Linked DNA regions of Homo sapiens. The protein of the gene in region 6 purifies or fractionates together with the protein of the main gene of each other region. This does not show direct contact. Each region holds a gene or a part of one and is shown on either strand. Other genes may lie near its edges.

Region 1 (2,617 bases), on a different chromosome or scaffold from region 6:
TCCCAGAACGCCTCGGACAAGCTGAAGAAGTTCACAGAATGGGTCTTCAACACCATAGACATGAGCTAGGGAAGGCTGAGGAGGACAGGAGAAGGGCCCAGACACTCCCTCCAGTGAGTGTCCTGCAGCCCTTATTCCCTCCATAGAAAGCATCCTCAGAGCACCTTCCCTGGCTTCCTACTCTGCCCCCTTTCGGGGAGTGCACAACACAATAGTTGCAGATCAACAATCATCACCTGCCTTTTGTAGAAAAGAAAAACAAAAAAAGTAAATAAAAATTTTAAACAGTAAAATAAAAGTTTAACTGCTAAAATGTGAATGTCTTTATTTTTTTGCACAATATCTTTATCTGTTATGTATTTAAGAAGAAACTGGGCCTTGGACCAGGGCGCCCCCTGGCCCATCCGCCTCTATTCCCATCAGCTTTCTTATCAACTTCAGGTAACCCAAGCTTTCCCTTGTTATTCTAACAAATATCATTATTCCTAGAAAAAGAATGTTTTTATAACTTGTTTGGGGAGTAGAGAGGGATATTTCCTTACCTTCTTCCCTAAAATGCCTGGAGAGGGAGTTGCTTTGAGAAAATGCCTACCTCCCTTGAATGACTCGTGCATGAGCTAGTGCTGTCTGTACCTGTCCTCCAGAGATCAGCAGGACCGGAGTTAAATATTTAACAGCAAGTCTGTAAACCAGAGCAGCTCTGACAGTGCCTGCAGGCCACACCCCTTCTCAGTCCTGCATTGTGAGGTCATTTCCTGCTTCTCCCTTTCCCCAGGAAGATGGTCCCACTTGTGCTGCAAGACTCTTTTTTGTTTGGCTTAATTGAGCCCCACTAAATTGGAATCAATCTCTCTTACAGCTTCCTGGCTCCAAACATTAATTGATTTCAGAATTCCCCCAAACTAAAACCTTATCTGTCTGCATTTTGAATGCATTTTGGTCAAAAGTATACGTTTTAAAGATTTTTAAAGATAAAAATGTGGCACAACTGGTTTTTTTAGCTTGCTGAAAATGACCATATCTCTAAATTAATCTTTCTCTCCAGAGCAAGACTTCACCAGTATTTGTAACTAGGAGAAGCTAACAGTGAATGTTTAATTGTGAATTTTAATCATTGCTTGTTAGGAATAATGACTGTGATACTAGAATGGGCTTTTGAAACCTGCATGTCCCAGTGTGAAATTTCAGCACGGCATTTTCTGCATCCTTTCATGGCCATCCAAAGGATTCCGCTGCAGAAATTATTGATGTGCTATTTTTGCTGTCTTGTGATGCAGGCTGCTTTGGGCCCCTGGGTCACTCTTCCAAGGCTGCTGTAGAGCACAGAGACATGGGGCTGGCCAGTGTTGACTGACCTGAGGAGACCCCTTTGTTTGTTGCCTTCATAACTGTCACTAAACCGACCCCTCTGCCCTTTCAGTGGCAACTCTGGTCTAAGGGAACATTCAGCACTCTAGCGGCATCTGATTGGAAGTTCCCTCACCCAAGTAATCTCAATTCCTTCCTCTCTCCATCCCTGAAAGAAACAGGATGGATTTTCCTCTCTTCTCCCTGCTACATTCACTACCAGATTTTTATGCTACAGTTTCATTCTTGATTGTGATTTCTCCATGGAATTTTTTTTTTCTGGTGACATTTCTATCATGGAAATAGGAAGATTTCGGAGTGCTTTGTGAAGATTTCAATTGTCTGTCTCTTTCTCTCTTTGACTTGTATGAAGGAGATTGTACATTGCCTGATATCTCTTTGTAAATGAGAAATATTGCTAACATCCAAGCATTCTGAAGTCTTGCTTATCCTTCTGAGTTTAGTTCTCATTTTGTTTTACATTTTGTTTGGGGACTTGGGGCAAGCTATTTATTAGAGTTTTGCAACAGAGTTCTTGTTTGAAGCCTCTAAAGACTACCTGTAAAATTCAAAGAATAAAATTCATTTTAAACGCTCTTTTAAAACACTTTGGTATTATTGCTTGAGGTTTGCTTATTTGAAAGACCACCCAATAACTCATTGACCCTCCTTGCATCCGAATTTTTTCATCAAGCTTTGTTAACACTAATGATGATTCTTGAAAATTTCTGTCCTTCTCAGAATGTTAATAAACTTTTTTACTCTGTCCACATGTCGATAGAGAATTACTATTTTGCCTTCTCTGCTTATGATTTAATATTTGCAGAGCACTTCATAATTAGCTTCCCCTTCATTATCCACGCATGGATTTTTCATAACATTGTTATTCTCTGAGACCAGCACATTTTTGGGCTGCATCTCCCAGCTCTCAATGTCAGATGTTGTGTGCCCAGGGAATACAAATGCCTGTTAATATTAGGCTGTGCAAAATATAATTAGAAAAGTTAATCTACTGAAAAAAAAATCAGTGCATTCCAAAGTCAAACCGAACCAATTTTTTTTTAATCTACCACGTCACTGTTCCTCTCCAGCGGCGCAGCTAATTGAGTGCTGACAGTAGAGTTTCTTCCTTTTATTTGGTTCAACAGTTCTACAGATTCCAGAGTTCTTGGACTAGCATAAGAATGGATGCCACAAAATATTCCAATTAACAAGCTAAAAAGGTCTGTTTAGACCATGATTCCTACATGGTTCGGAGGGCTTATACGTT
Region 2 (2,390 bases), on a different chromosome or scaffold from region 6:
TCTGGACCTGGGATCCTGGCAATCACAACCCTAAGAGGAGAAGGCCCCACATCCGAATTTCCTCCCTTAGGGTTAGGTTGGGCTCCCTGGTCTAATCTCTTACCCCTGGCTGTGGGCTGCAGCTTCCTATCCCTCTCCTGCTCTTCTTCCTGTAGGCGGCTCAGAATTTCCTCCAGGGTCTTCCCAATCTCCACAAAAGATGGGCGCAGTTTGGGATCCATCTGTAGGTATCCACAACAGCCATGAGCTCTGCCCTCCATCTCCCACCCCAAAGATGGCATTTGAGTCTATTTCTGGCATCTTTGAAGATTCAGATGTGCAGCTGAGAGACCTTTTCTAAAGGCCCCAGACAATGAAGGTGATCCCTACAGTTCAGGTCAGGGAAAACACTACTGTCTACTACCCTCCCTGTCTTAGTGTTTGTCTTATCACCTTGTCACAGAACCTTCCAAAAGTATGCTCATATTAGTTTATTCTGTTCTTGAGTTCTGCTCCTAATGTGTTTCTGGGAGGTATCTGAACAAAGCCCACCTACCCCTTGATCCTAACAGGTAAGGTCCAGCCCCAGAGCTACATACATGAAGGCCAAGAAGAGCCTTTCTCATATGCCTCAGGACCAGTTGGATCCACAGTCCAACAATAAAACCGGACCAGAGTTCCATCAACACCTAACGCAAGGAGTGATGGGTCTACCCTACAGGTTGAGGACCAGATAATACAAAACAACTTCTTTCTTTCCTTTGTCCAGAGCTCTGAATAGGTTAGCTGCCAGAGGGAGGAGGAGGAGGTGTGGTTGCTGTCACTACAGTGAAAATGAGGTCCCTCATGAAGCTAATTAGCAGCCTCTCTGTACAGTCCTAACCAGGTGAAAAGGGTTCAGCCAGCCCCTGATGAAAGGCAGAGGGAGAAAGACACTCACGTTACAGCAGTTGAAAGTAAGTTGCAGAAAATCTGGGGGACAGTCTCCCACCATGTGCTGGAAAGCATCATAGTCCAGCCCGAAATTCTGTGGATGGGTATGGAAAGCATAGGTAGACAGTTCATTAATCCCCCCACCCATCCTAGCCTGCTCAGTAGAAGTGGTTGGGAGCTGCCCCTGACAACCAGCAACAGAGAGTTCCAGCAAGTCCATCCCAGGGACAGAACAGTTCCATTGCTTCAAACTAGCCCCATCAGTGGCAATGATCCCCATGCTTGCAGCTCACCTCTGTGCGGGGAAGATAGTCCGGATCGGCCTGGATGCGGGCGATGATCTCGCAGAGGATGATACCATAAGAGAACACATCTGCCTGGTGGGTAGTCGGACTTTGGTTTCCCTCTTAATGGGTTGAGGGGTAGGGTATCTGCCCCTGCCCCTGCCTCCCCTGCACCCCACCATCTAACAGCCCAGGCCTGGGCCATATTGCCCATACTTCATCCCAGTCAGTCACTGGGCAGCTGCCAGGTACCACCACTGCTCTTGGTAGGAACATCTTGGACACTCTGCTAAGAGTGGATTCTAGGGAGAATCAGCCGAGCGCGATGGCTCATGCCTGTAATCCCAGCACTTCAAGAGGCCGAGGTGGGCAGATCACTTCAGGTCAGGAGTCTGAGACCAGCCTGGCCAATATGGTGAAACCCTGTCTCTACTAAAAATAAAAAAATTAGCTGGGCGTGGTGGTGCATGCCTGTAATTCCAGCTACTTGGGAAGCTGAGGCAGGAGAATAGCTTGAACTCGGGAGGCAGTAAGCCGAGATCGTGCCACTGCATTCCAGCCTGAGCAACATAGTGAGACCATCTCAAAAAAAAGAAAAAGAAAAAAGGAGAATCAGGCCTTGAGATCCTCCAAACTTACCTTTTCATTATAGGGCTCATCTCGGAGAACCTCAGGTGCCATCCAGAATGGGGAACCCACCACGGCCAGCTTCTCACTCCCCATGCTGTGGGGTGAGATTATACAGAAAATGAGCTTGCCAATGGCTGGTGCAATGGAATCTTTTGACCATTCCTCCACCTCAAGGATGGGTACAGACGAGGACTAAACAAATTTAGGGAGCTGAGGTTGAGCTGTGACCAAGTCCTGGCCTCTGGGGAGGAGGCTAGAATTTTCCCTTAGCTTCAGCCCCCTGTCCCTTGGACCCCAGCATCCAGTAGGGCTACACACCTGACATCGGGGATCTTCTCAGCCAGGCCAAAGTCAGCTACCACTGCAGAGTAACCATTCTCATCCCTCTTTATCAGGCAGTTCTAGGGTTCCCAGGAAGGAAGAGAAAATAATGTGGCTCAGAAGCGGGGATCAGCCATAGAGTTACCACCCATTCCCCCCTTCCTATCACAGGGCACCTTGTCCTCTGCTCCTTGGTGAACCGCACTCAAGCTGACCCCACTGGTCAGGTCAGGGGCTCTAAGA
Region 3 (3,500 bases), on a different chromosome or scaffold from region 6:
GCATGTAAAATATAACTCCATAAAAAAAAAAATACCATGAAGGGAGAGTACATGAAGGTATGGCTAGTAAGGCTGGTTGTTTAAAAAAAATACAGTGTGAGGCTGGGTGCGGTGGCTCACGCCTGTAATCCCGGCACTTTGGGAGGCCAAGGAGGGCGGATCACAAGGTCAGGAGATCAAGACCAACCTGGTTAACACGGTGAAACCATGTTTCACGGTGAAACACTGAGTACGTGTATTTTTTTTGTAAAAATACAAAAAAAATTAGCCGGGCGTGGTGGTGGGCGCCTGTAGTCCCAGCAACTCGGGAGGCTGAGGCAGGAGAACGGCGTGAACCCAGGAGGCGGAGCTTGCAGTGAGCCGAGATCACGCCACTGCATTCCACCCTGGGTGACAGAGTGAGACTCCGTCTCAAAAAAAAAAAAAAAAAAAAAAATATATATATATATATAGTGTGGCCATGGGATCTCCAACTGCATGCAAGAGCAACCTGGAGAGACTTTGACAGAACAGGTCAGCACAATCCCTGCAGCTGCCACTTGTCTTTCGTGTGTGTGTGTGTGTGTGTGTGTGTGTGTATAAAACCAAAATGTGTGACACAATAAATGCTGGCACAGCTCTGATTTCTTTTAAAAAGAAAATTAAAATAGGAGTTCTGGTTCTAATTATTAGCTATTAGCTACTTCTGAAATTCAGAAAGTACCATAATTAGGCTAAAGGGTTATATAATATGTAGTGAATCTTCAATGTAATACCATATACTCTGCTATTTTTCTTTTGCTAATTAGTTTTGTTACATTAGTAACCAGGCCATGCCAACACAAGTATTCCAGTCCATGTGATGATATTTCTCAATGTAAATTAATAAACTGAAATTCTAATGGTAAACATTTTTTCATAAATGTAGTTAGAGACCCCTCTGAAAGACAAAGCAGCTTTTGCCATGCTGACCAAATTAGATTTCTGAGCCTGCAAAAATCATCCTGGAGTTTCACAAATCCACCTAAATGCTGCTACCCATGACGTCTCTTGGGAGTCGGCCAGCAGCCTCTGGCTATACCCCAACCTGGGTTCTGAGAGCACTTTCCATTAGAAACCTCTATGCTCAATGAGGAGACTGGTGCTGCTGTGCTGGAAAGAGATCAAGCTGAGCAGGCAGGATGAGGCCTGGAAACCAAGCACACAGGAGATAGCCCCACTAGCAAGAAGGCCCTCATGGAGAGGTAAGGCAGGTGTTCATCACCCCTACCTACCATTCTGCCCCCCAATTCCCAAATACCTTCTTGAGCACCTCAACCTGGCGAGTATCTCCAGCACTAGCTCGGGCCTGCTCTAATTCCCTCTGCAAGACCTCTATCTTCTCTCCAAGCTCCTCTTCCATCTCCTCCTTCTCCATTCGCAGCTGCAGGAGTCTGAGCCAGGCAAGGTGAAATAAAGGGGAAAGGGAACAGAGTAAGGCCACATGCCTGGGGGAGGTTAGCATGACAATAAAAGCCACCTCTCTGGAGGCCAACACGCTGGGCACCAACTCTCAAGAGGAAGGAAGGTGAACGTGGAAAAGAGCAGTTTGAGAAATGGGAGAGTAAGAGCATACCATAGATAGAAAGGAAGTGGGCCAGGCATGGTGGCTCATGCCTGTAATCCCAGCAATTTGGGAGGCCAAGGCAGATGGATCACTTGAGCCCAGGAGTTCAAGACCAGCCTGGGCAACATAATGAAACCCCGTCTCTACAAAAAATACAAAAATTAGCCAAGTGTGGTGGTGCATGCCTATAGTCCCACCTATTCGGGAGGCTGAGGTGGGAGGATGGCTTGAGCCCAGGAGGTGGAGGTTGCAGTGAGCCCAGACTGTGCCACTGCACTCCAGCCTGGGCAACAGAGCAAGACCCTGTCTCAAAAAAAAGAAGAAAGGGACTGGGTGCAGTGGCTCACGCCTGTAATCCCAGCGTTTTGGGGGGCCGAGGTGGGAGGATCACGAAGTCAGGAGTTCAAGACCAGCCTGGCCAATATGGTGAAACCCCGTCTCTACTAAAAATACAAAAAACCCAGGCCTAGTGGCAGGCGCCTATAATCCCAGCTACTCGGGAGGCTGAGGCAGGAGAATCGCTTGAACCCAGGAGGCGGAGGCTGCAGTGAGCCAAGACTGCACCACTGCACTCTAGCCTGGGCAACAGAGTGTGACTCCATCTCAAAAAAAAAAAAAAAGGAGAAAGGGGGCCAGGCGCAGCGGCTCACACCCGTAATCCCAGTGCTTTGGGAGGCAAGGTGGACAGATCACCTGAGGTCAGGAGTTCGAGACTGGCCTGGCCAACATGGTAAAACCTCATCTCTACTAAAAATACAAAAATTAGCTGGGCGTAGTGGCATGCGCCTGTAATCCCAGCTACTTGGGAGGCTGAGGCAGGAGAATCTGTTCAACTCAGGAGGCAGAGGTTGCAGTGAGCCAAGATCGTGCCATGACACTCCAGCCTGGGAAACAAGAGCGAAACTCTGTCCCAAAAAATAAATTAAAATTAAAATTAAAATTAAAAATTAAAAAAAAGAAAGGAAGTGGCATATGAATCATGGGTATTTCTGAGAGGGCCAATGTCCTTACTCCTGCTTGGTGGCTCTAAGATCCTCCTTGTTCTTCTGGAACATACTCTGCCAATGCCCTGTCTCCTCTGAAGTCTCCTCCAGCTCCCTCTGCAGCCCTCGCACAAGGGCTGACATCTTCTGCCTCTCGGCCTCCAGCACTGCATGGTCCTAGAGAAGGGGAGAGTTGGACACCAGAAGGCTCAGAGGGAAGAGGTCACTTCAAATCAAAGTGTGAGTGTGTACAAGGAAAGGCTTAGACCCAGAGGGCACCATGCCAGGTGCACCCCCTGACACTCTTGTGGTACCTGGTACAATGCTAGCAGAGATTCTCTCCTCAAGTCACAGTCCACCCCTCTATCATCTACAGGAAACCTCCCCAGTTATTTCCCCTTGGGACTTTTTATTTTTAGGGGGACAGAGTCTCGCTGTGTTGCCCAGGGTGAAGTGCAATGGCATGATCTCGGCTCACTGCAACCTCCGCTTCCTTGGTTCAAGCGATTCTCCTGCCTTAGCCTCCCAAGTAGCTAGGACTACAAGTACGCATCACTACACCCAGCTAAGTTTTTGTATTTTTGGCAGAGATGGGGTTTCTCCATGTTACCCAGGCTGGTCTCTAACTTCCTGAGCTCAAGCAGTCCACCCGCCTCAGCCTCCCAAAGTGCTGGGATTACATGCATGAGCTACCGCACCCAGTCCCCCTTGGGACTTTTGTCACACAACCTCAAGGTACTTCTGGCCTGTACTCCCTCCCTCTGCCCCTATAGTTTTCCTGCCCAAGGTTTTCAGCAGATCTCACTGTGTCCTTTAGGAGGAGAGGGGGAGTTCCCAGTTGCAACCATGAAAAGTCCAAAAGTCCAAGATCCCAAGGCAGCCTTGTTCTCCAGCAGTGCCCTCCTCTCTCAGACCCTGCTCTTGTCACATGC
Region 4 (3,500 bases), on a different chromosome or scaffold from region 6:
AGGTGCAGGCCAGCCACTAAGGCACAACCGGCCCGCCTCGTGCGGGAACAGACCCTTCTCCATCTGGACCCAGGCCTGGGCTGGGTGGCGGGAGAATGGTTCTTTTGCTGAATCTATGAAATGGAAACTGGCAAAACTGCCAAATGAGGGCGAGTCAGAGGCCAGCGAGATGTGTCCGGATGGGGTGAGGAAGAGCCTCCTGGAACGGCAAAGGGGAGATGCTCTAAGGTGAAGGATGAGAAAGCAGAGCCCAGGGAGTGCAGAGGGCAGGGGAGACCGGAACAAAAGCGGGAACAGCCATGGCGATGGGGGGATGGGTACAGGATCTTTGTAGCCAAAATCATCAGGAATTTTCCATGTCGTCTCCAGGGACTAGCCCTGCCCCCAGCCTCACCCCTGCAGGCCCAGCCGCTCCCGCAGCTTCAGCCAAGCCGCTGCCTCCCGGCCCCTCCCTCTCCTGCCCGGACCCTGTCCCCTCCCAGGCCGGCCACGTTCCTGCTTCCCCAGACCCCCGGCACCACCCTGGAGCCCGGAGTGCCCGGTACCCACCTGAGGGCAGGTCGAGCTCCACGCCGACCCACGTGCCCTCTTGGAAGTCGGCAGGCCCCACGTATCTCACCACGCCCGTTTTGTGGGCGCCCACGGTGACGAACTCGCCCTCTCGGAGCCACTCCGGGACCTCGTCAGCTTCCTCGGAATCAGAGGCCAGGGCCTGTCCCCCGGCGCCCGGGGCCGGCGCATTCCCCTCGGCCCCCGGGGAGCAGCCGGGGTCCCCAGCCAGCATGCGCGAGAAGGAGCGCAACTCCGAGGCCCGCACCCTCCGGACGCGGAACGGGGAGCCGGGCGCCGGGGCCTCGAGGTCGGGGCGCTCCCGACCGGGGCTCACGAGCTGCTGGGGGCCAGGGGGCTCCTCGGCGGGGACGGCCGTGGGCGGTGGGGGGTGGCTGATGGGCGCCTCGGGCTCGGCCTCAGGGGCGGTGGGCATGGACCCCGGCGGGGCCGCAGCGTCCAGGCCGGGGCCCAGGGCGTCCGACAGGGTCGCGGTGGAGACGCTGTGGGAGAAGTACCCGCTAGAGGCTTCACTCAGGGGGCTGGGGGGCCCGTCCTGTGCCTCCGGAGCCGGGGTGACCGCTGTGACAGCTATGACAGGCGGTGGGGAAGGCACTTTGGCAGGTTTGTCGCAGATCTTCAAGGCCGGGGCCCCCATCGTCTGCACCAGCACGTCAGGGCCCATCTCCGGCTGAGCCTGCAGCAGGACGGGGAAGCAGGGGCTGAGAACAGAAAACTTTCCAACACGAACCAAGCAGGCAGCTTTGACTTGGAAAAGAGCATGAGGCCAGGGGCAGTGGCTCAGCCTGTAACCCCAGTGCTTATGGAGGGCAAGACGGAAGATCGCTTGAGCCCAGGAGTTCAAGAACAGCCTGGGCAACATAGTGAGACCCCGTTTCGACAAAATAAATAAATAAAGAACATGGCTGGGACCCGGCCAGGCCCTGGTTCCCACACTGGTTCTGCCACTTAGGGCTGCATGGCCCTGGCTTCCAAAGTGATAAAGGTTGAGGGGCCGACAGTGCACCCCGCAGGCCCTGTGCTGTGTGCCCAGGCTCAAGAGCACTGACCATGGCCACAGCCCCTGCCCCATCTACTTTTTACCTTTCATACAAAATAGAATCCAGGGCCTGCCATGCAGGGCCAGCACGCTACAAAGACCAAGGCCCCTCGCCACAGAGGGCAGCACACAGTAGGTGCACGCTAAAACCCTGCTAGGGCTAGTTAGCTTTCCTCCCATGGAGACAAAGCCCCTGCCCACCCCCAACCTCACGAAGAGACTGAGTCACTAAAGAGACCAGAAGAGCACTTTTTTGTCCGGCAAAACCTAAACAATGATCTCATCGGAGGACCGGAACACACTCAGCACAGCCTGGCCAGCTCAGGCACCAACAAGGAGCCACGGGCCTGCAGCCTGGCTGGGCATCCCGAGCAAGGCAGCAGGGGGACGAGGAGGGGTACGAGGAGGGGTATGAGGAGGGGGACGAGGAGGGGGACGAGGAGGGGGACGAGGAGGGGGACGAGGAGGGGGACGAGGAGGGGGATGAGGAGGGGACAAAGGCTCCCTGTGGGCCGTGGCCCTTTCTCTCCAAGGCTGCTGCTCTGGCTGCTATGGAAAGCAGGTGCCATGTCAGGGGCTGGGGGGGCCTCGGACCCTGGAGAGAGGCCAGGAAGCAGCCCCCAGGGAGAAGCCACCAAGTGAGGCCAGCAGCTCTCCTCATGTCGGTCACTCTGTCTGAGTCACCCAGGCAGAGGACACACACACACTCAAAGCCCACATCTCATGGGGGAGAGCAGCCACCGCTTGCCCAAATCCTATTGTTTCTGGGGCATTCTTTCATCTATAACTGAAGCCATGTGAAGAGGCTGCCAGATCATCTTTCTATTCCTATTCACAGTGACCGAAGAAAAGGAGAAGGCAGGAACAGGGAATGAGATTGGTGGGGTGGAGAGCACTGCTATCCAGAAGAAATATGTTTTCCGATATTTATGGAAAAATTATTTATATTACAGGAATGGTCATTTTCCATTTGAAATACGGGATTTATTTGAATGGGGAAGCGGCTGAGATCTATACGTCTCTTACAGTTACTTGGCTTACCTCAGCAGCTTGATAAATCATGCGTTTTCCCAGGAACTGTCCTTTATATTCCCGTTTCCAGGGGCCCTCTTTTCCCCACCAACCACACTTTCAGGGTAGGAAATTAATGGCACCTCTTGAGATTAACAGCCCATTTTTGTGGTGAATCTCTAGGCTGCAAAATTTACTCAATCCAATAGATCAATAACTGTCACCAGCATAAATACTCTAAAAGATTAGGCAATCCTTCAATCATTCTTCCTTTGCACATTGTCCATGTTTTATTTATTCTCTTCTATTTTAGTTTTAATATCACTGACCCAACAGGGGAGAATACGCAAAACTATGAGAGCCGGGAATCTGAACGGTAACCAGGGTCCTGAAATGGCTTCTGTTCCCCGCCCCCACCCCGGGTAAGGCCAGCCACTGTCACTTCCCCAGGCCAGGCTCTCCCAGGATGAGGCCAGCTGCATGCCTCAGATTTGCAAGTATCATCATCCCATTGGCTTCCATGTAAGACACTGGCTTGGGCTGGGCTGGAAGGATCATGGCATTATTCTACAGCAGGCCTCCAGAGGGGAAAGCCCTCATCCAAGGCTGCACTAAGTGAAAAGGCAGGCACTGGGGGCAGAGCTGCAGAGTCAACAAAGCAGGGAGCAGGATGGTGGAAAGCACAGACTGGCACTCCAGGCCCCATCCCCACTTGACTGGAGTTGATTTGTGAGTTGAAACCCAGATGCCATCTATGGATTATACCCTTGCCACTGAAGAAGACATTTCTGGAGACTTCTGCAAAAGCCCAAGCTTGGAAAACCACCATGATGAGCTACAGAAGCTGCTGCCTTCACTGGCAAGGGGCTTGCTCTGACCA
Region 5 (3,500 bases), about 190 Mb from region 6:
TTCATTTAGTTACCACATCTCTTAAGTCTTCTTTAGTCTGGAATGTTTCCACAGACTTTGTCTTTATAATATTAAAAAAAAAAAAAAAACCCAGCTCCCCGACGTTTTAAAAAATAGGATGTTCCCCATCTGGAGTTTAAAATTTCCTCATGATTAGATTCAGGCTATGAATTCATGGCTGAAAAACACTGTAACTGATGTGCTCTTTTCTGGGTATCACATGCAGAGACACACAAATCCATTGGTGATATTTATTTTGATCATGCACACAAGGTGTTGTCTGATTTCACCACCATATTGAGTTACTGTTTCCCCCCCTTACAAGTAATAAGCATTATATGGGGGGAAATTTAAGACCATGCAGACAACCTGCTTCTCACCAAAATATCCCCCTAGATTTAGCACCTATTGATGATTCCTGTCTAAACAAATCTTTATTATAATGGATGCAAAACAATCATATAAATTTTAAAGTTAAATAGATTTCAACTTTTGCCTACACTCCCAGATCCCTTAGGTGTAAGTGCTCAGCCCCCTCCACTTTAGAAGCGCTATAGTGCAATGGTTTGAGTGTACCAATCAGGGACAGCTTCCTGGGGAAAAAATGTATTTCAGCAAATAAGTGGGGAACCAGTCAAGACACAGACAACTCCATCAGATCAGCTTAAAAATAAAATACAGCAATATGGTAAATCCTCTTTTTTGCAGTTGTTGTTTTTGGCTCCCAGGGATCTCTCACGTGACAGGCACCACACGGGGGATACTCACCACACTACAAACAAGGAAAATCCTCTTTCTTATTTGAGACAGGGTCTCGCTGCTCGCTCTGCTGCCCAGGCTGGAGTGCAGTGGCATATCATAGCTCACTGCAGCCTCCACCTCCTGGGCTCAAGCGATCCTCTCACCTCAGCCTCTCAAGGAGCTGGGCATGCACCACCACGTTCAGCTAATTTTTGTTTGTTTTTTTTTTTTGGTAGAGACAGGGTCTCACTATGTTGCCCAGACTGGTCTTGAACTCCAGGCCTCAAGTGATATTCCTACCCTGGCCTCCCAAAGTGCTAGGATTATAGGTGTGAGCTATACCACCTGGCCTGAAAATTCTCTTTCAAAGTAAAGAATTGATTTGCAAGGTAAACATACCCTAGCCCTACCAATTTTATAAAATCACTTCTTTACATACTGAGTTTGCCTGAATTACACTGATTCTACAACTAATAAATATCTTTCTGCTGCTGCTGCTGTTAAACATATTCTAATTATATTCAGATTCTAAAAACTTGTCAAAGACATAGCCCGCAATGATTACTTCTGATTGTTCATCCACCTTTTCATGTATGTCAACCTTTCCACCTATTCTCTCAAAGATAGGGATTAGCCACTAAAAATGTATCTTTCATCTGATTGTGACCAACAGAAATTTTACACTGAAATCTAAGACAAATATATGTAACTGAAATTAAATGTTCCATGAAGCAATATCACACGAAGTACTGATATTTTACATTATCTCTTCCTCTTCTCCTCATTTTTCTAATGTTGGTCCTGACCACGACTAAACTGATTTCAAAAACCATTAACAGGTCATGCACATGACTTGTACTTGAAAATACCCTAGAATCTGGCACAGAATTCTTTATCAGATTCCCAATAAAGTCTAGAACATTTCACTTATTTCAGGTGAAATGAGAAATAAGAACATAATGAGTTTTTGTTTGTCTGTTTGCTTGTTTGAGACGGGGTCTCGCTGTGTCACCCAGGTTGGAGCCCAGTAGTGTGATCTGCGCTCACTGCAACCTCCACCTCCCAGGCTCCAGCAATCCTCCCACCTCAGCCTCTCGAGTATCTGGGACCACAGGCGTGCACCACCATGCCTGGCTAATTTTTTTGTACTTTTGGTAGAGACGGGTTCTCACCATGTTGCCCAGGCTGGTCTCAAACTCCTGAGCTCAAGTGAGCCGCCCGCCTCAGCCTCCCAAACTGTTGGGATTACAGGCGTGAGCCATATTTAATTTTCAAAGTAATTTTACAATTTTTTATTCTGAGATTGTGTATTACAATCTTTTGGTCTTCAAATGTCATTTCTTTAAAAAAAAAAAGAGGTATGAAAGTGAAGGTTGTTAAGTTGTCAACTATATACTAGTCCCTAATTTATTTCCTCCACATTTTACTGGATCATGAAATCTCCACTGCAAGACTTCAAAGACACATGAGAGTTTCAGCCTTCAATAAAACCTTCAATACAGCCTTCAAGAGGTTTATAATTTGGCTTAGGCATGGTACCTGCAATCCCCCAGCACTCTGGGAGGCCTCAGCGGGCAGATCACTTGAGGTCAGGAGTTTGAGACAGGCCTGGCCAACATGGTGAAACCCGTCTCTACTAAAAATACAAAAATTAGCTGGGTGTGGTGGCATACACCTGTAACACCACCTAGTCGGAAGGCTGAGGCAGGAGAATTCCTTGAACCCAGGAGGCAGAGGTTGCAGTGAGCTGAGATCATACCACTGCACTCCAGCCTGGGCGACAAAGCAAAACTCTGTCTCATAAAAAAATAAATAAATAAAAATAAAACCAATTTGGCTCAGGGAAATAAGACATAACAATTGTAAGATCTGTAATAATTACTTTCACCTTATAACTATTGGAATAAACATTCTGCAATAAGTACCCCAAGAGTGGTCCTATCAAGTGTTCACGGAAGAATACTTTGGGCTGGGAATGAAAAGAAGTAAACATTTTTAGAAAGGAAATAATATTTGAGTTGAGCCTTGAAGGGTACTGAGAATAGTCATCAGGATGAAAAGATGAAAATGTGAGGAATAAGAAATAGGTCATTTTGGTCAGAACATGGTAAGACAGTAGAAAGAGATGACAGAGGACTTGAGAAGATGTTAAGAGGCTAAGATGTTTGAATGTAGTCATTAAAGCAATGAAGCAATCTGAGAGGGTGAATAGCACAATCAAAGCATGGCTTTAGGAAGATAAATCTGAGGGCCCTGTACAAAATAAACTGGACAGGTGGAGATTCTCGACGCCATGCAATAATCCACGCATCGAATAATAAGTACCTGAACTATAGCGGTGGAAAAGAAAAGGGATGAGAAAAGGTGACAAGAATTGACAAGTCTTAGAAGAGATTCTAATGCCCTAGGCAAAAATGGCAAAGAATCAAAACATGATTCTGAAATTTCAAACTGGGTGATACAGTCAGTGGGAAATAAGGAAAAGAAGCTGATTCAGGAGAGAAGTTCAGATTCAGGTATGTACCTGAGGGTTATAAAGAGTCAGTATTGGAGTAGAGAAAAGACCACTGGACTCCATCAGAAAAATCTGAGTTCAAGTGGGAAAAAAAAAAAAAGGTTAGGATCCAACGAAAAAAACAGAATGCAAAATTATGTCTGCAGTATGATTTTAACTATTAAAAAACTAAGCATAGGAAAAGACTAAGAACAAGTACATTAACATGTTAACATCAGCTGCATACAAATGGGCTAAAGATAAT
Region 6 (3,500 bases):
AGAAGATAAGGGTAACAATGAAATAATGAAAGAGAACTTACAAAAATCAGTTTCCATTTTTAATGTATCTTTATACCTAATCAAACATTAATGACAGACACTTGGTAAGTATGCAGCAATTGTGTTTAAATATTCTTTTATCTACCCTATAGAAATGAAAAAAACACTATAATCACAACATCCATACCACATGTTTAATTTCACTGAATGTTATACTGACTGAAACAGTTACTTGACTAAGGCTGAAGTAATTTGGGGATTCATTCTTTCCTTAAGAACCCTCAAATTCAATCAGTATTTATTAACTCCTATGATATGTGTCAGGCACTACAACATACACTAAAGAAAACAGCTATATCTTCCTGGAACTTTCAATCCACTGAGATTTTTTAGAGAGAAATCAAATGGAAAATGTAAGCAGTGTGTGGTATAGGAGAAAAGCATGAGTATCAGAGTTAGACAAACATGGGTTTAAAACCTGACTCTGAAATTTGCTGGCTGTGTGACCTTGATGAGTTATTTAACCATTCTGAGCCTCTGTTTCCTAATTTATAAAATGGGGATAATATCACCTATCTTGTAAAGGTATCTTTAAAAATCACTGCTAATCAAATAACTGGGATGCTGCATGTTAACTCCAAGAGAGTGCCTAGCACACATGGTAGGTGCTTAATGCATGGCAGCCATTACTGTTATTTAAAATTGTTTTCTCTGTAGGCTTTTAAACCATTAGATATTGTTACACTGCTGCAAAGGAACTCTTTAATTCCTTTACTGCTATTTTTCACAGTTTCTTGGCTTTAGACAGGGTATCAGAGGTGGATTAATTCAATTCAGCCTATTAGTTAGGGGAATCCTGACATGTTGACCAGTCTCTCTTCAAATATTCAGGGATGGGAGACAGTTCTGTTTGTAAACAGCTAACCATGAGCAAGTTTTTCTCTAAACTGTGCCAAAGCCTTTTCACTTCTGCACATTGGTCCTAGTTTTATCTTACACAAAATAAGTGTACTTGCTTTATCACAATTCCCATTCCCTCCCCCAAAGGTAGAAAGGGAATGATGTCACATCACTTCAGCCATCACTTGTCCAGGTTGACCTTTGTCCCCAGCATGAGAGTTACTTTTTTTAACTTGACATAGCTGGCAATGTTCCCCATAAAATGAACAGTATGGAACTAAGACCTCCTCTGTCCTGTGTATCATTAAGGCAGTCTAAGATGGCATTTACTTTTTGACAACCACCAATAATCTATTTGAGTTTAGTATTACTGGACTTTTCTCACAAGTAATACTATTAAAGAGTCAAGTTCCTATGGCAGGTGCAGCAGTTGACCTCCTTAGATTTCATCTTTTGACTTTTGGCCCACTGTTCAAATTTGCCAGCCTCTCTGTGGGTCCTGCTCTGTCATTCCACATGCCGGGTTTCCCTCCCCAATTCTTACCATCCAAGTTATTTGCCGTATTAAGGGCATGAAGCATCTGTTCACACCACTGCGTAAATCCATCTTGGGCTTTATTTACTCCCTGAAAGAGCTTCAGCAACTTTTCTTCTTCTTCTACTTTCTTATTCTGCCGGTTAGACACACCTACAGATTTACTAAAGCAAAACAATAGGGTGATATTATATTCCCAGAAACTGTTACTATATGATTATAGTACAACACCATAAATAATGTCTTGGCAATACTGGATGGATGCCCAGTAAATAATCCAATGCTTGGCTCCAAAAAAGAAAAAAATTCAAATATTTGGATTGGATATACCCTTAAAATCTAGCCTCAGTTAATATATCCTAATTTGTGGATACAGGGGTTCTACTTAGAAAAAATGATGAAATTCTTCCTACGTGTCCTTAGGTAAGTTGTTTAATTTTACTAAGCCTCAGTCTCCTCATCTGTAAAACGGTACTAACAACTTTTTTGGGTTATCATAAGTAATAAAGATGTTCTATGAAAAGGCCTACAGCACAGTGCCTGGCAAAGATGCTCAATAAACTAACAGAAATTTATTGTTCTATTCATAATATGTTAGGCCCTAAATCAAGAAGAAACAATCTGACAACACTACCATTTATTAAGTAGTTACTATGTGCCAGGCACTTACTACTTATCATGTATTCATTTAATCTTTACAATTACATGCATAAAGTTGTTATTATTATCTTCATTTTACCGATGAGGGAACTGAGGCCCAAAGAGGTTCCCTCTTGCCCAAGGTCACACAGCTAATAAGTGGTAGTGCTGGGATTTGAGTTCATGTATTTAACACTAAAACCCATGCTCGTTCAACAACACTGTATATTGAAGAAAGAAAGATGAAGATGAAAATGTAACTAACTTATAAAAATAAATAGGTTTAAGGTCATTACAGAGGTATTTTATAATACTCATATTAATAGCATAAATTACTTAAAAATACAAATATAGGAAAAATGCTAAGGTATCTAGAGAATACCTTGGAGAAATGTTCAACAACACAACAAAAACATTATACTATTCCTAATATTTATTAAGTGGTTACCATGTGCTAGGCGATAGAATAAGTGCTCAGCAGGAGCCCCAAGAAATAATACGAATGTGTTTCTATGGGGAAGAAAGCAATCACCATAATTATGACTGCATGTGCTTGAACACAGATGAAAACGGTAAGCAAAAACTCAATAACTACCTTTTCCTGCCCACCCAACATCCCACTTCCTCCATCCCCACCTCCCAACCAACCAAGGTGCATAGGTGTGGTCATTTTGAGCCCTACCTGAGACTGGCGTTGTTTTTATTTTTATTTGTTGAATTCCTAGGTCCCACCTCTTTCACTGCATCATCCCAGAATCCCATGTTGGAGTTTTTAGTGTCAGCATTACTCCAAATACTACTGACTAGGTCAGATGCCCACTGGTTAGGAGGACCAGTATTTATAGAGCCCCAAACAGAATTCCCAATGCTGGTGTGCAGGTTGGAATGCTGTTAAAGAAAAAGAGAAAAATGATTATCGTGAATCATGTTAAAAAGATAAGAAGACAGTCAGAAAAGATAATACTAGTCCATACAACGACAGCTTAGGAAAATGCACACACCGTATTGTTACGAGCTCTGTTTGGTTGCTGGTGTTGCTGCTGCTGCTGCTGCTGCTTTTGCATTTGCCTGGCCTCTTCCTGCTGGATCTCCAGAAGAGATTTCGTGGTACCTGAAGGTTTGCTGACATTCCCCCAACCTGAGAGTTTCTGCTGTTGCTGTTGCTGCTGCTGCTGAAGAGCTTTCATCAACTCCCTCTGCTGGCGCCTTTGCTGTTGCATAAAAACAGAAGCTAGCTGAGGATTCCTGTTTTTAGATAATAGTTATAAATATCCAGTATACTAAATGGAATGTAAATACACAGTAGCTACATAAAATTAACTTGATGGGATTAAATTCTGCTGTTGCAAATAAAAATGTAAATCGCTAACAGTATTAAAAAGGAGAATAAAAACATGAAATGCAAAATTACTTCTTTTTTTATTGT
Region 7 (3,500 bases), on a different chromosome or scaffold from region 6:
AATGAACATACCTGTATGAAATTATAGGGACCCTGCATTTGTGCCATAAGGTCTTGTACTCGCTGTCTTCTCACAAGGGGATCTGCCTGAGCCACTGGAGTCAAAGAGTGGGGCTCTGGTACTGAAGGGGATGCAGCCTGAGGTTGCTGCTGGAGTGAATTTACCACCTAAGGTAGAAAAAAAAGGATTAGAAGGAATAGGAGAGCAAAAAAGCTCCACTCACTACCACCATGATGGGTCCCCCACACTACATAAACCATCTATACTATAAACAGAACGGGCTTTAATGCAGTTACCCAAATGAATTACATTTATGCCAAATTTAACATTCTGAAAAATGTCATCACTTCTACAGTGTTTCAGTTCCATAAGACCACTATGTAGCATTTCATGTTGATTTACTTATTTATTTATTTTTTTTTCTTTCGAGACGGAATCTAGCTCTGTAACCCAGGCTGGACAGCAGTGGCGGGATCTCGACTCACTGCAACATCCATCTCCCGGGTTCAAGCAATTCTCCTGCCTCAGCCTCTCAGGTAGCTGGGATTACAGGCACCCATCAACACACCCGGCTAATTTTTGTATTTTTAGCGGAGACAGGGTTTCACACCATATTGGCCAGGCTGGTCTTGAACTCCTGACCTTGTGACCCACCCGCCTTGGCATCCCAAGTGCTGGGAATACAGGCATGAGCCACCATGCCCAGCCTCAGATTTATTTTATAAGCTGCTTTCAAAGAAAGATTACCTGTGTTTACATCCTAAAATAATGTATTTTTCTTAAAACTGTTATGCCTTCTATAGTAACTGGATTTATATATCTATGTCAAATATATATCTATCTCACAACCTGGTACATAGCACTCAAGAAATGTTAGCTATTATTATCATCAAGATTTGGGTTTTTCCCATTCCATTTTCTCAGCCAACACCATAGGATCAAGCTTTACCAACTCATCTAAACTGCTACAGAAGCCAAAGCTCACTCTATTAGCCTTTTCCCAGCTCTAATAATTTCCTCTGCTTATTGTTCTTAGTAATTCCCTGCTCTGCAAGGAAATCCTATCTTTTATTACATCAAATTTATATTATTCTGTCTGGATTTAAAACTGGACAAGTCATACTGGTTGAAACTAGGCAAAATCAGCTATTCCCTTTATAAACAACACAGATAAAAATCACTACCAAAGCGAAACCAACAATCTGTGTAATACCAACTTCAGGATGCTCCAAAAATTCGTGGAATCTCATGTGGATAGCCTTTAGAAAGGCCCACCTACTAGATACAAAGAACAAACCACACTGGCACAGTGGCAAGTAGTATGCTCTTCTCAAATAAAATCCAAAAAATACTTAACTACAAAGCACTGTATACTGCTTCCCAACTTCTTCCTACTATGTCAATATTTACCTTGCATTCTATGTTCAATAAAACAAATATGTTAATAGTTCATTTCTACTTCTACATCCATGCTATACATCCCTATTACCTGGCTCCCCTAAAAACATACATCCCATCGACTTAGTCAAGGCTCAATGGGTTTGTACACCTCATATATACAGCTGACATTTGAACAACATGGGCTTGAACTGCACAGGTTCACTTATCCTCCAGTACTCTTGAGATGTGAAACACCTGTATATATGTGGGTCCCGCAGATACATGGCACAACTTGAGTATGAGCAGACTTCGGTGTGTGGGAGTGTCCTAAAACCAATGCCCCTGGTATAACAAGGAACAACTGTAAATCACCTCTACTAATCTTTTTGATTGATTTCTCTTCTAATCCTCCTATAACATTTCTGAACTGCATTCTTTAATTCAGCAAATATACACTATTTTGTTGGGACTTCCTGAGCAGTATTTTCATCCCAAGTACCTTTCTGGGGTAAGTGCCTACTCTCTTTACCTTACCAATGGGACATTTTGGTGCTCCAACAGAGGGATGAAGTTGCTGGCACAATTATAACATCTATGGGCCAGGCGCAGTGGCTCATGACTGTAATCCCAGCACTTTGGGAGGCTGAAACGGGCAGATCACTTGAGGTCAGGAATTCAAGACGAGCCTGGCCAAAATGGTGAAACCCCATCTCTACTGGGCAAGAGTGAGACTCTCAAAAAAAAAAAACTTTGCAATCTCTTTGGAAAATGGGTTTTTTTCTTCTTGAGACAGAGTCTCTGTCAACCAGGTTGGAATGCAGTGGCACGATCTCAGCTCACTACAACTTCTGTCTCCCCAGTTCAAGTGATTCTCGTACCTCAGCCTCCCAAGTAGCTGGGATTACAGGCATGCACCACCATGCCCAGGTTTTTGTTTGTTTTTGAAGTAGAGACTGGGTTTCACCATGCTGGCCAGGCTGGTCTCTAACTCTTGGCCTCATGTGATCCACCTGCCTCAGCCCCACAAAGTGCTGGGGTTACAGGCATGAACCACCGTGCCCGGCCAAGAGAATGGTCTTGATATAAGAATAACATATTAAAAGGAAAAGCATATTACCCTCAGCTTACAGCTATTTTCCTGCACCTTGGGGGTGTAAAGAAAGACATCTAAAAGAAGATCAAAAGGAAGGCCAGGACCAGTTGGTAAGGTTTTTAGACTGTATCTTACAGGTAACAAGGCATCACTGAGAGCCTCAAGTACAAGTAACTTAAAGCTAACTTTTCCAATAATTAAGTTGTGACAATGAATAGGATGGTCTGGAGGCAGTCAGAGAGGAGTAATATGAAGAGAGTCACTGAACTAGACATGAGGACCCGAAAAAAATCATCATTATCAGTTGAGAGACAGCATTAGAAAACGCTAGAGGAAGTCTACAGCCTGGTGACCAAACAGCATTAGGGTAAAGGAGGAGTGCAAGATGATACCCCAAAACACAGCTATCAGTGTGGGAGCCCAGATTTTTACAGAGCAACCTAATTTCAGTAAGAGACAAATCATGGTAACAGATTAATCCACAGATAACTTTGTATAAAATAATTTTTTTAGATTGGTTCAGCAAAGCAGGGATCCTATTAAACATCCACAGGGATAAACATTCATTTTTTGGAAGTAACAGTCTGGTGTAATGAGTCTGTTATTATAATAAATGTACTAATAATGCAAAAAACAATCTTAATTTGTTCTCAGTAGAGATAAAAATTACTAACTGAAGACAAAGACAACAACTTTGCAATACAGAGAACTCTTACCTCAACCGTTTCAACTGTCCACTCATCTACCTGCTCCTTTTCACCACTGGTGAACTGTGTTTCTGCCATGAACTGTCTATTTACATACTGCAAAGCAAAGTAAATGTTTGAGACATTTGTTTGAAAGGCAGCAAAGTAAAGGCAGCATTAAATTAAAATCATACCTCTGTTGATTCAACTTCACTTTGCTCAGTGTACTCTTCTGCTGGCTCAGGTTCTAAGAGGTTAAAAAATGGTGCAAAACAAAAGGATTTTTAGGTCAGTGATACTACTCTACTCTGTGTGATATTGGTAGATACACGTCATTATGC

Evidence for each region.
Region 1: the proteins of GIGYF2 (region 6) and SIPA1L1 purify together in Homo sapiens (affinity purification with mass spectrometry, with the first as the bait; one large-scale study listed by BioGRID). This does not show direct contact.
Region 2: the proteins of GIGYF2 (region 6) and TESK2 purify together in Homo sapiens (affinity purification with mass spectrometry, with the first as the bait; one large-scale study listed by BioGRID). This does not show direct contact.
Region 3: the proteins of GIGYF2 (region 6) and CGN purify together in Homo sapiens (affinity purification with mass spectrometry, with the first as the bait; one large-scale study listed by BioGRID). This does not show direct contact.
Region 4: the proteins of GIGYF2 (region 6) and KIF13B purify together in Homo sapiens (affinity purification with mass spectrometry, with the first as the bait; one large-scale study listed by BioGRID). This does not show direct contact.
Region 5: the proteins of GIGYF2 (region 6) and EML4 fractionate together in Homo sapiens (co-fractionation; one large-scale study listed by BioGRID). This does not show direct contact.
Region 7: the proteins of GIGYF2 (region 6) and CAPRIN1 purify together in Homo sapiens (affinity purification with mass spectrometry, with the first as the bait; one study listed by BioGRID). This does not show direct contact.

What each region holds. Positions count from the first base shown.
Region 1 is NC_000014.9:71,739,093-71,741,709, forward strand, and holds the end of SIPA1L1 (signal-induced proliferation-associated 1-like protein 1), read left to right. Parts: coding exon 1-69; 3' UTR 70-2,117; downstream 2,118-2,617.
Region 2 is NC_000001.11:45,345,774-45,348,163, forward strand, and holds part of TESK2 (dual specificity testis-specific protein kinase 2), read right to left. Parts: intron 2,228-2,390; coding exon 2,145-2,227; intron 1,921-2,144; coding exon 1,836-1,920; intron 1,290-1,835; coding exon 1,206-1,289; intron 1,007-1,205; coding exon 920-1,006; intron 222-919; coding exon 104-221; intron 1-103. UniProt on the Homo sapiens protein: Dual specificity protein kinase activity catalyzing autophosphorylation and phosphorylation of exogenous substrates on both serine/threonine and tyrosine residues. Phosphorylates cofilin at 'Ser-3'. May play an important role in spermatogenesis.
Region 3 is NC_000001.11:151,524,887-151,528,386, reverse strand, and holds part of CGN (cingulin), read right to left. Parts: intron 2,746-3,500; coding exon 2,597-2,745; intron 1,413-2,596; coding exon 1,280-1,412; intron 557-1,279; exon of another isoform or gene 449-556; intron 1-448. UniProt on the Homo sapiens protein: Probably plays a role in the formation and regulation of the tight junction (TJ) paracellular permeability barrier.
Region 4 is NC_000008.11:29,071,071-29,074,570, forward strand, and holds part of KIF13B (kinesin-like protein KIF13B), read right to left. Parts: intron 1,247-3,500; coding exon 550-1,246; intron 1-549. UniProt on the Homo sapiens protein: Involved in reorganization of the cortical cytoskeleton. Regulates axon formation by promoting the formation of extra axons. May be functionally important for the intracellular trafficking of MAGUKs and associated protein complexes.
Region 5 is NC_000002.12:42,175,853-42,179,352, reverse strand, and holds part of EML4 (echinoderm microtubule-associated protein-like 4), read right to left. Parts: intron 1-3,500. UniProt on the Homo sapiens protein: Essential for the formation and stability of microtubules (MTs). Required for the organization of the mitotic spindle and for the proper attachment of kinetochores to MTs. Promotes the recruitment of NUDC to the mitotic spindle for mitotic progression.
Region 6 is NC_000002.12:232,843,831-232,847,330, reverse strand, and holds part of GIGYF2 (GRB10-interacting GYF protein 2), read right to left. Parts: intron 3,286-3,500; coding exon 3,076-3,285; intron 2,963-3,075; coding exon 2,757-2,962; intron 1,600-2,756; coding exon 1,445-1,599; intron 1-1,444. UniProt on the Homo sapiens protein: Key component of the 4EHP-GYF2 complex, a multiprotein complex that acts as a repressor of translation initiation. In the 4EHP-GYF2 complex, acts as a factor that bridges EIF4E2 to ZFP36/TTP, linking translation repression with mRNA decay.
Region 7 is NC_000011.10:34,082,731-34,086,230, reverse strand, and holds part of CAPRIN1 (caprin-1), read right to left. Parts: intron 3,407-3,500; coding exon 3,354-3,406; intron 3,277-3,353; coding exon 3,190-3,276; intron 168-3,189; coding exon 12-167; intron 1-11. UniProt on the Homo sapiens protein: mRNA-binding protein that acts as a regulator of mRNAs transport, translation and/or stability, and which is involved in neurogenesis, synaptic plasticity in neurons and cell proliferation and migration in multiple cell types.